Homo sapiens: one gene and its partners. The protein of the gene in region 3 purifies or fractionates together with the protein of the main gene of each other region. This does not show direct contact. Each region holds a gene or a part of one and is shown on either strand. Other genes may lie near its edges. The genes, in order: FNBP1, NCAPD2 and GOLGA3.

Evidence for each region.
Region 1: the proteins of GOLGA3 (region 3) and FNBP1 fractionate together in Homo sapiens (co-fractionation; one large-scale study listed by BioGRID). This does not show direct contact.
Region 2: the proteins of GOLGA3 (region 3) and NCAPD2 fractionate together in Homo sapiens (co-fractionation; one large-scale study listed by BioGRID). This does not show direct contact.

What each region holds. Positions count from the first base shown.
Region 1 is NC_000009.12:129,889,906-129,893,307, forward strand, and holds part of FNBP1 (formin-binding protein 1), read right to left. Parts: intron 642-3,402; coding exon 634-641; 3' UTR 1-633. UniProt on the Homo sapiens protein: May act as a link between RND2 signaling and regulation of the actin cytoskeleton. Required to coordinate membrane tubulation with reorganization of the actin cytoskeleton during the late stage of clathrin-mediated endocytosis.
Region 2 is NC_000012.12:6,500,584-6,504,234, reverse strand, and holds part of NCAPD2 (condensin complex subunit 1), read right to left. Parts: intron 1-3,651. UniProt on the Homo sapiens protein: Regulatory subunit of the condensin complex, a complex required for conversion of interphase chromatin into mitotic-like condense chromosomes.
Region 3 is NC_000012.12:132,822,219-132,825,869, forward strand, and holds part of GOLGA3 (golgin subfamily A member 3), read right to left. Parts: exon of another isoform or gene 3,463-3,651; intron 2,889-3,462; exon of another isoform or gene 2,701-2,888; intron 94-2,700; 5' UTR 1-93. UniProt on the Homo sapiens protein: Golgi auto-antigen; probably involved in maintaining Golgi structure.

The DNA of each region.
Region 1 (3,402 bases), on a different chromosome or scaffold from region 3:
GTGTGTACCTGCCCCCCTGCCTGCCAGATGCTCCCAGGTTGAGGGCATAGTGAAAGGGTCAATGTTTAGTATGAGGTGCAAGCCTAGAATCCAAAAAGGACCACTGAGGACTTCACAGACTCAGGAGAGGAGGAAGTGTTTTCTACAGCAGACAGTCTGGGACACACGGATGACATCGACACGGATGACATCGAGTGCTCAGTCCGCCTGATGTGCGCTGGACCTGCCTTGTCTCCTCAGGGGACCCGTGATGACACTTTCACAAAAGGCACTGTGTGAAGCGCGGAAGGGCTGCCAGGACGAGCCCGGGTGGACTGAGGGCCCAGGAAGGAGCAGGTAGGGGCGTGTGTCCCACCGTCTCAGTGGCCTGCGCGGGGTGGGGAGGGGGAGCGATGAGGACTGACCCGAGCCATGGGGGTGGGCGCTGGCGAGACTTGTCCCCCACGAGGTGGCCCGGGCTGGGCGGGAGGGCAGGGCCGCAGGGAGCATGCTGGAGAGAGAGAGAGACCGCCCCGCAGGGATGGGGCTGCGGAGGGGTGGGCTGTCCACAGGGCAGGGCGCTGGAGGCCTGTGGGAACAAGCAGACGGAGGCTCCTCCAGGAAGGCTCACCCGAGGCTCGCAGGCACTCCCCTCTAGGAATCTACAACACAAAGAGAAACAGAAAGAGAAACTCTCTGTTAGAGAGGAAGGCGCGGGTTCCAGGCGGGCATTTTGCTCTTGGCTACAAACTGCACCGCCCTGGGAGGGGAGGGTAGTGGGAGGGGAGGGATGGGAGGGGGCGTCTTAGAGCAATCGGTTACCACAGGGCGGGTCTGAGATGAGGAACTTTCACGGTTTTCTCTCTAGCCTTTAGCTGGTCTTTCCTTCAGAGTTAAGAGAAGCCCAAACAGGAGACTGATGAGGCCATCCGCCCCAACTCGTCTTTCTCATAAGTTTAGTTTTGAGAGAAAGTAAGAAACGGAGGCCGGGGCTGGGCGCCGTGGCTCATGCCTGTAATCCCAGCACTTTGGGAGCCTGAGGCAGGCAGATCACGAGGTCAGGAGTTCAAGACCAGCCTGGCTAACATGGTGAAAACCCATCTCTATTAAAAATACAACAATTAGCCTGGCGTGGTGGCAGGTGCCTGTAATCCCAGCTACTTGGGAGGCTGAGGCAGAAGAATCGCTTCAACCCAGGAGGCGGAGGTTGCAGTGAGCTGAGATCGGGCCACTGCACTCCAGCCTGGACAACAGAGCAAGACTCCGTCTTAAAAAAAAAAAAAAGGAAACGGAGGTTGGGTGCAGTGGCTCATACCTGTAATCCCAGCACTTTGAGAGGCTGAAGAGGGAGGATGCATGAGCTCAGGAGTTCAAGACCAGCCTGGGCCACAACATAGCCAGACCTCATCTCTACAAAAAATTAAAAAAAAATTAACCAGCATGTTGGCATGCGCCTGTAGTCCCGGCTATTCGGGAAGATGAGTTGGAAGGATGGCTTGAGCCCAGGGAGGTCGAGGCTGCAGCGAGCCAGGATCACACCACTGCACTTCAGCTTGGGCAACAGAGTGAGAATTCAACTCCAGAAAAAAAAGAAAAGAAAAGAAATGCATCAATTTCCTAGAATGGTACAAGGAACATGAAGGTCCAATTCTCTCAGAAGGAAACTCTTGGCTCTTCAGCAGTACAATGTAAAATCTTTGGTGAAAAGGAAAACCTGTTGTTCTGTATTCATTCCGCAATAAACCGTGAAAAGCTCTTCATCTCAAGGAGAGAGAAAAGAAACAAAAGAAACACAGACTTCTCAGGCCCTGAGTGCACGCAAGATCAGAAACAGGGGAGGTGCCATCATTTAAAGGAGGAGGTAGGGGTGGGAGGCAGAATTTTTAAAAAAGCATTGGGCTAGAAAATCCCCTATTACTGGAGATGAAAGAGTTAAATATTCATATTACACAGAATAATTTTCTTGGAAACATGAAAAGTCACTTAAAATACACAATACTGAGAAAAAATATAACATTTATTAGAGAAGCAGATACGAGGGTACAACTAAAAGATGCCAGACAGAGTCTTTTAGGATAAGAATAGAAAGAGACAATCATGTTGCTGTATTCAAACAAAACTTACTCAGAACCCCAGAGTTTATAATAAACTCAAGTGCGGAGCCGCAGCGGGGACCTAGCTCCCCATGCGAGAGGCTTCGCGGCTTTCCGGCAGTTATAAAAACAGAAAGGTCATTAGGCAGCAGGAGAACCCATAAAACAAACAGATAAAAGTACAACATTAAAACAACTCATTCGAGTACTGCTTTTAGTTTTTAAGTTGCAGTATATACACACGTATTCTGTGGGGGGAATTATGAAAATATTTAACAGAGAGCAATCGAAGAACCAAAAAACCACAAAAGAAAGTCACAATCCAATTGACCCACCGGAAGTTACTCTAGTCTAAATATTTTGGCAATTATTAAATAAGCACATCGTAGACACACACACACACACACACACACACACACACACACACACACACACACACAAAAAGGTTGACCGGCATTATAAAAATAAAACAGCTGCACTGAGTTATGGGCCTAAGAAAACAGTGGCTTTGCCCACATCAGATGGGTTGAAGGAGGGCAGTGTTTGTGGGCAAGTTGGACAGAGTTATAAACAGAGTAGGCAGGAAAAGCTTCTCTGTACATATTATTAATCTCTAAGTGTAACTTTCAAATAAAAGGAGAAAATTATATAAGTAGCTGAGATTTTGCTGCTTTTATATTAACAGACAACTGCTAGAAGATAATAAAGTATACTTTGGGTGGAAATGGAAATTCCTGATTCTTTGGAATTTGGTTTTCTAATATTTCATGCATTGATGCGATGGACCTGAAATTTACAAAATATCTTTTAACTGTTTAGTCAATATTACAGAGATTCACCTGTTATAGTACTGAGGCATACAACTTAATGATCGTACATTTAAAATTATCATCATAAATTTATGTGCCCAAACCCCTCCCACCCCATTCCCCCTGAAACCAACTGAGCTATTTTCTGAATTAAATTTGAATAACGAAATAAATTTGAATAATCAAGAAAAAAATACACAGCTTGACAGAATGCCTTTTTTCAAAGCAGACTTTCACAAGGTTAATGTCGTCTTGCCCTATTTTCGAGTTTTTCAGTGGTTAGTTTGCTTTGTCCAGGAGTTCACAGACTGGAAATGAGTTTGTCATCGGATAGAAAGGTCAGATTTTAATACCTTAGGTTTCCCATTCACTTGTTTACTGGGTAAAGCTGGAAACTTCCTACTGCTCATTTAAACAGATCCTTGTGGTTGAAGGGTCAGCTGATTTTCTTGCTGCAATATCTACAAAGAGGCCTGGGGTCGGGATGGGTGGCTTTATTGATACTATGCCAGCAAAAGTAT
Region 2 (3,651 bases), about 130 Mb from region 3:
ATATATATATCTATATCTATATATATATATATATATATATATATATATATATGTATATATATATGTCAAAACTGAATGAGATAGTCCATGCAAACCAGTCAGAACAACACTTAGCACGCTGTATGGTTTGAATGTGCCCCTCATAATTCATGTGTTGGAAATATAATCCCCAACATGACAGTGTTGGAAGGTGGAGTCTAATGGGAGGTGTTTAGGTTATGAGGGCTCCACCCTCACAAATATATATACATATTTTTGAGACGGAGTCTCGCTCTGTCGCCCAGGCTGGAGTGCAGTGGCATGATGTTAGCTCACTGCAACCTCTGCCTCCTGGGTTCAAGCAATTCAGTGCCTCAGCCTCCCGAGTAGCTGGGATTACAGGTGCCTGCCACCACACCTAGCTAATTTTTCTATTTTTTAGTAGAGACGGGGTTTCACCATCTTTTTTAAAAAAAAAAAAAAAATAGATGGAGTCTCGCTCTGTCACCCAGGCTGAAGTGCAGTGGCACGATCTCGGCTCACTACAACCTCCGGCTCCCAGGTTCAAGTGATTCTCCCGCCTCAGCCTCCTGAGTAGCTGGGATTACAGGCACGCGTCACCACACCCGGCTAATTTTTTGTATTTTTAGTAGAGACGGGGTTTCACCATATTGGCCAGGCTGGTCTCGAACTCCTGACCTTGTGATCTGCCCGCCTCGGCCTCCCAAAGTGCTGGGATTACAGGTGTGAGCCACCGTGCCCAACCCCTCACCGATATATTCATACTATTATAAAAAGGGCTCTGGGGAGTGGGTTCACTTGTGCCCTTCTGCCTTCTGCCCTGTGACAATGCAGCAAGAAGGCCCTTGCCAGTTACTGGTGCATTGATTTGGGACTTCCCAGTCTCCAGAAAAAAATGTGAGCCAATAAATTTCTTTCATTATAAATATCCAGTCTCAGGCATTCAGTTATAACAGCATATTTTTCTCAGTCCATTTTCTATACATCGTATTTCCATTGTTGAGCTTGTATCACATATTCACTTCTCTGTCATGCTTTTTAAAATTTAGCATTACAGTAAGTGTATTAGAAACCTTTGTAGGCCAGACGTGGTGGCTCACGCCTGTAATCCCAACACTTTGTAGGCTGAGGCAGGTGGATCATCAGGTCAGGAGTTCGAGACCAGCCTGACCAACATGGTGAAACCCCGTCTCTAATAAAAATACAAAAAAAAAAAAAAAAAAAAAGCCAGGTGTGGTGGCATGCGCCTGTAATCCCAGCTGCTCAGGAGGCTGAGGCAGGAGAATCGCTTGAACTGAGGAGGTTGCAGTGAGCCGAGATAGTGCCACTGTATTCCAGCCTGGGTGACAGAGTGAGACTCCGTCTCAAAAAAAAAGCAACAACAACAACAACAACAAAAACACCTTTGTAAACAATTTTTTTTGAGACAGGGTTTGTTGTGTTGCGCAGGCCGAAGTGCAGTGCAGGATCATAGCTTACTGCAGCCTCAAACTTCTGGGTTCAAGCGATCCTCCTGCCCCAGCCTTCTGAGTAGCTGGGACTACAGGCAGTGCCACCACACTCGGCCTTATATCTATCTTAATTTACTATTCCCCTATTGTTAGATACTGTGATACTTGTAACTTATTCCACTAATTAACAACAACAACAACACATACTCCCCTGGCAAATCTAGGTTAAACCAACTTTCTGGTTACTCCATTCATGTGACCACACAAATAAAAATGGCCTGAGAAAAACACAGAAACAAGCTGACTAGTCTTACGTTAAACTCATGACTACTAACCTGAAGTGGGCATTCGTACTCCCAAGTCTATTCGTTTTCTTCTAGGCAATTATTTCACACCTATCCTCTGCTCATAACACCATGACCTTCTTCCCAAACTCACTCTCAGTTAAAGGCTTTCCCTTCCTATTGAGGAAACAGAAGCAGACAGAAGAGAACTTTCAACTGCCCCAAGCTCTATATTTACCTGCACTAGTTGCATCTATGCCCATACATACACTCTGCCTTTTTTTTTTGCTACTGTGGATAAACTGTCCATGTTCTGATAAAGCCATCTCCTCCCCGTGTACCAGATCACGTACTCTCTTACCTACTAAAGGCACTGCTCCAACAACTGTTCCCTCTTCCTTCTGCAGCATCAGCTTTTCCCTCTCTGATCATTCCTACTCAATATAGACACACATAATGCTGCCCATCTTAAAAGAAATACATTATGTAAATTCATCATCTCTAATCTCTGTCATTCCATTTTCTTAAAAACCTATTCCTAGCAGGCTTTTGCCCCCACCATCTCCTGAAACAGCTTTGTCAAGGTTACCAGTGACTATGACATCAATAAATCCAGTAGTTAATCTGCAGTTGACCTCTCTTTTGTTTTTGAAACACTCTCTTTATTTAGCGTCCATTTAGCTCCTTCATTCGCTTTCTGCCCCAATGACTGCTTCTTAATTTCTTCTACTGGTTCTTCTTCATCCTCCTAGCCTCTAAATGCTGGACTGTCTCAGGTCTTGGTCTTCAAACTGCTGCTCTTCTCCATCTACACTCACTGCAATCTCATGGCTTTAAGTGCTGTCTACACGCTGAGTATTAAATCCTAAATGTGTATCTTTAGCTGACAACCTCTCCCTTGAACTCTGCACTCACATAACCAACAATCTAAACCTCTCCCTCCCATATGCTACCCCATCTCAGTAAATGGCAACTTCATTCTTCTAGTTGCTCAAGTCAAAAAGCCTTGTAAGGCCGGGTGTGGTGGCCCACGCCTGTAATCCCAACATTTTGGGAGGCCGAGGCAGGCAGATCACTTGAGGCCAGAAGTTCAAGACCAGACTGGACAACACGGCAAAACCGCATCTCTACTAAAAATACAAAAATTAGCCAGGTGTCGTGACCCTGGGAGGCGGAGCTTGCAGTGAACCGAGATGGTGCCACTGCACTCCAGCCTGGGCGAGAGAGCGAGACTCTGCCTAAAAAAAAAAAAAAAAAAAAAAAAAAAAAAAATTAGCCAGGCGTGGTGGTGCACACCTGTAATCCTAGATACTCAGGTGGCTGAGGCATGAGAATTGCTTGAACCTGGGAGGCAGAGGTTGCAGCGAGCCAAGATCACGCCACTGCACGCCAACCTGGGTGACAGAGCCAACAGAGCAAGACTGTCAAAAAAAAAAAAAAAAAGCCTTGTAATCATTCTCATCTCAGATTCCTTTACTAACCCTATAATCCAATCCAATCCATCAGCATTCCTGTAAAAGCTCTACTTTGAAAATATATCCTGAGTCGTTTTATCACCACTTCCCCTGCTATCCCTCCAGTCCAATCTACTTGGTATTACTGTATTAGCCACTTAACTAGTATCCCTGCTTCTCTCCTTGCCTCTTATAGTCTCTGCTCAACACAGTCGCCAGTGAATCTTTTAAAATGTCAGACCATGTCACTCCCATGCTCAAAACCCAATGGCTTTCAAGTTCATTCACACTGAAGTTCAAGTTTTTGCCATGATCTACGAGGCTCTAGAGATCAGTGCTTCTCAAGCTTATAATTGCATCCAAATTGCCTGGGGGAATCTTCTTAAAATACAGATTTCCTGATTCAGCAGCTTTGACATCCTGGGCCTTGACATCCTGCATTTCTAATAAGCTCCCAGATCA
Region 3 (3,651 bases):
TCCTGGGAGGGGCCCTACTGTGTCTCCCATTTTCAGGAGAAGATCTGATGACTCACAAATGACTTGATGTCAAACCAGCTAATATCATGATACCTGACAGGAGAGAGAGACAAAATGTATTATGAAACTTGTCAGATTTCAAGTATCAATTACAAAATTAGCATTTGGTTCCCAATTTGCATACGTACAAGAAACAAATACAAACTTTTTCATTCAGCAAATAATCCTGGAGCACCCACAACATCCTAGGTTTTGAGGCTAAGATGCTGACCCAGCCACACTGGGCCCTTTCCTGAAGGAGCTTAATGTCTGTATCGGTGCCAACTAAAGAACATTCTGCTGGGACAGCGCAGCTCTGAATCTGTGGAGTAGGTGTCACACAGGGCAACTGAGCTTTAAATTTTATTTAAAATTAATTTGGGCCAGGCGCGGTGGCTCACCCCTGTAATCCCAGCACTTTGGGAGGCCGAGGCAGGCAGATCACCTGAGGTCAGGAGTTCAAGACCAGCCTGGCCAACATGGTGAAACCCCCACCTCTACTAAAAATACAAAAAATAGCCGGGTGTGGTGGTGAACACCTGTAATCCCAGCTACTCGGGAGGCTGAGGCAGGAGAGTCACTTGAAACCGGGAGGCGGAGGTTGCAGTGAGCTGAGATCGCACCACTGCACTGCAGCCTGGGTGACAGAGGGAGACCCCATCTCAAAAACAATTTAAAAATTACAATACCAGACTCACAGGCCCCCCTCTCAGCTAGTGAGTGACTCTGCCCAAGGCCACGGCTCCTGCCGGCAGCCCCACCCCTTCAGGTTGGACAACTCAGATCCAGAGAAACAAAACTTTAAAAAGCAGGTGCCATGGGATGTGGTAACTCTATACAGGGTGTACAAGGACACCAGAAAGGCAGCTGCCTTGGAGTGGGGGCACAGAAAGGGCATCTCACGGCAGGGCCCGTTCCCGTCTTTACCTCTAGCTGGGTTAGCTCTCTCAGCCTGCCCTGCCGGGCTACATTCAGGGGAGCAAAACTTTGCCCAACATTTGGCAAGTGATTATCCACCCTGAAATGTGCTGGTGATATTATTAACTCATTTCCTTATCAACAGGTAAGACACTAGCATGAGCTTCCATTCATTCTGCAGAAATGTTGGCATTTATTCCTTTAAAATCAGTTTCATATTAACCTACATTATGTTCTGTGTTTAACATTTTTCATGAGAAACATTACACAACCTTCGCCTCTAGCTTACAAATCCCACACAGAAGGTATAGACAAGAAGCCCACATGGGGCCGGGTGCGGTGGCTCATGCTTGTAATCCCAGCACTTTGGGAGGCCAAGGCGGGCGGATCACCTGCGGTCAGGAGTTTGAGACCAGCCTGGCCAACATGGTGAAACCCCATCTCTACTAAAAATACAAAAAACTAGCCAGGCGTGGTGGCAGGCGCCTGTAATCCCAGCTACTTGGGAGCCTGAGGCAGGAGAATCACTTGAACCTGGGAGGCGGAGGTTGCACTGAACCAAGACCACGCCATTGCACTCCAGCCTGGGCAACAAGAGTGGAAACTCCGTCTAAAAAAAAAAAAGGGCTGCGTGTGATGGCTCATGCCTGTAATCCCATAACTTTGGGGGGTCAAGGTGGGTGGATCACTTGAGGTCAGAATTTCAAGACCAGCCTGGCCAACAAGGTGAAACCTCGTCTCTACTAAAAATACAAAAATTAGCCAGGCATGGCAGCGCGTGCCTGTAATCCCAGCTACTCAGGAGGCTAAGGCAGGAACATCGCTTGAACCTGGGAGACAGAGGTTGCGTGAGCCAAAATTGTGCCACTGCACTCCAGCCTGGGAGACAAGCACAAAACTCCATCTCAAAAAACAAAAAACAACAAAAAAAAGAGAAGCCCACGTGGCTGGTCCTCGAGAGCATGTGTGTCACTGACCCCGCAGCAGGACGTGCCTGTCTTTCTAGGGGTTTTTACTCTACCTGCCATCTAGACTGGTCACCCGTAAAAGAGGAAACCTATGGGTGGTGGGTGTAACCCAGTCCACTGACACAGTCAATGACTCACTGAAGGGCGTGCAGACCTGTGAGTATCTGCTCATAACTATAATAATCCACCATTCCTCTCTGCCACCTTGCATCCTACAGGCCAGAGACAGTTATGAGTTCATAACAGTGTTGTTCAGAATATTAAAAGGTTACGTATGCTATTAGTGTAAAACTAGCATTAAGGGTTTGTAACCAGAAAGCACTGTGAATAGAAATGTGTCCTAACATTAGTAACTATAAATCTCGCATAGCTAATCAAGAAACTACTGTAAACAAAGGATCCTAGATGTCTTGACTCAGGGTGCCTGGCACATAAAAATATTTAAAGATTAAAGCAATGTCTGAAGCACAGAAGTGAAGGAAGTTACCAAGGCTGGTCAAAAGCTAATCCTGTGTGCAACGAATTCTCAATCTCATGTTTGCGTCTATGATCATCTAGTAACATCTCTCATCCCTGGATTTTCCGGGTGGGTGGGTGATAAATGGGCCTTAGAGCCTAGGCAGGGATCTGAACTACACACCTGTCCTTACACACAGCACAGAACCCTCTGAAAATCACTTTCCAGGAAAAACACTGCGATCTCCACCAAGCCTGCCCCTCAGCTACAATCCCAGACACACTCCAAGAGAACTGGGGGTCAGCCGGCCACGCCCACCTGGGAATGGAGAAGACACCCACAAAACAAGGGGAGGAGCATCAGCAAAATGATGGCTGCTTATCACAGGCTTGCCCCTTTGACAGATGAATTACAAACTGGCACGGAGGACTACACGCGGTGGAATGTGGACTCGACTGCGCCACTGAATACTGGTACCCTGTACATCTGGTCCTCTTGAAAATTTCCTAGCAAAAGAAAACTTGCGTTTTGCTTTGTGATGTCTTTGCTTCTGCCTTGCGGGGGTGGGGTGATTATATGGAACCGACCGTGTGTGCCTACGCGTGCAGACCCTCCTGGCCCCTCAGGTAAAGGAACCGACGGTGTGTGCCTGCGCGTGCAGACCCTCCTGGCCCCGCAGGTAAAGTGTCTCGTCTACCCCCTCTGCCATCACTGTACCTCACGTGGCCTCCACCACAGCACGTCATGTCTGCCATTGCGTGTGTGCCCATTACATGGCGAGATCCTTGAAGACAGAGACTCATTCCCCGTCTGCCTCCCACCACCTTGAACACTCCCAACTCCTAAAGTGCCAACACAGGTTTAATTTGCCGAATTAAATCTTCAGTTCTGCTGATTCTGCTGAGTACATTCCTCTGCTACAAAGCTAATGGTTCCAAAACAAAATGATTAAGTATTTGAATCCTGGAGCATCAACACTGCCTTTTAAAATACAGCAAAGTCTAAACTAGTCCAGCTGAAACATCTGTGAGCTTCAGTTCCAATGAGGGAGTCCAGGGAGTTAGAAACTGGAAGAGCACCTTTTTTCAGTGGCCGGGAAGATGGCGGACATTCAGACTGAGCGTGCCTACCAAAAGCAGCCGACCATCTTTCAAAACAAGAAGAGGGTCCTGCTGGGAGAAACTGGCAAGGAGAAGCTCCTGCGGTACTACAAGAACATTGGTCTGGGCTTCAAGACACCCAAAGAGGCTACTGAGGGCACCTACATTG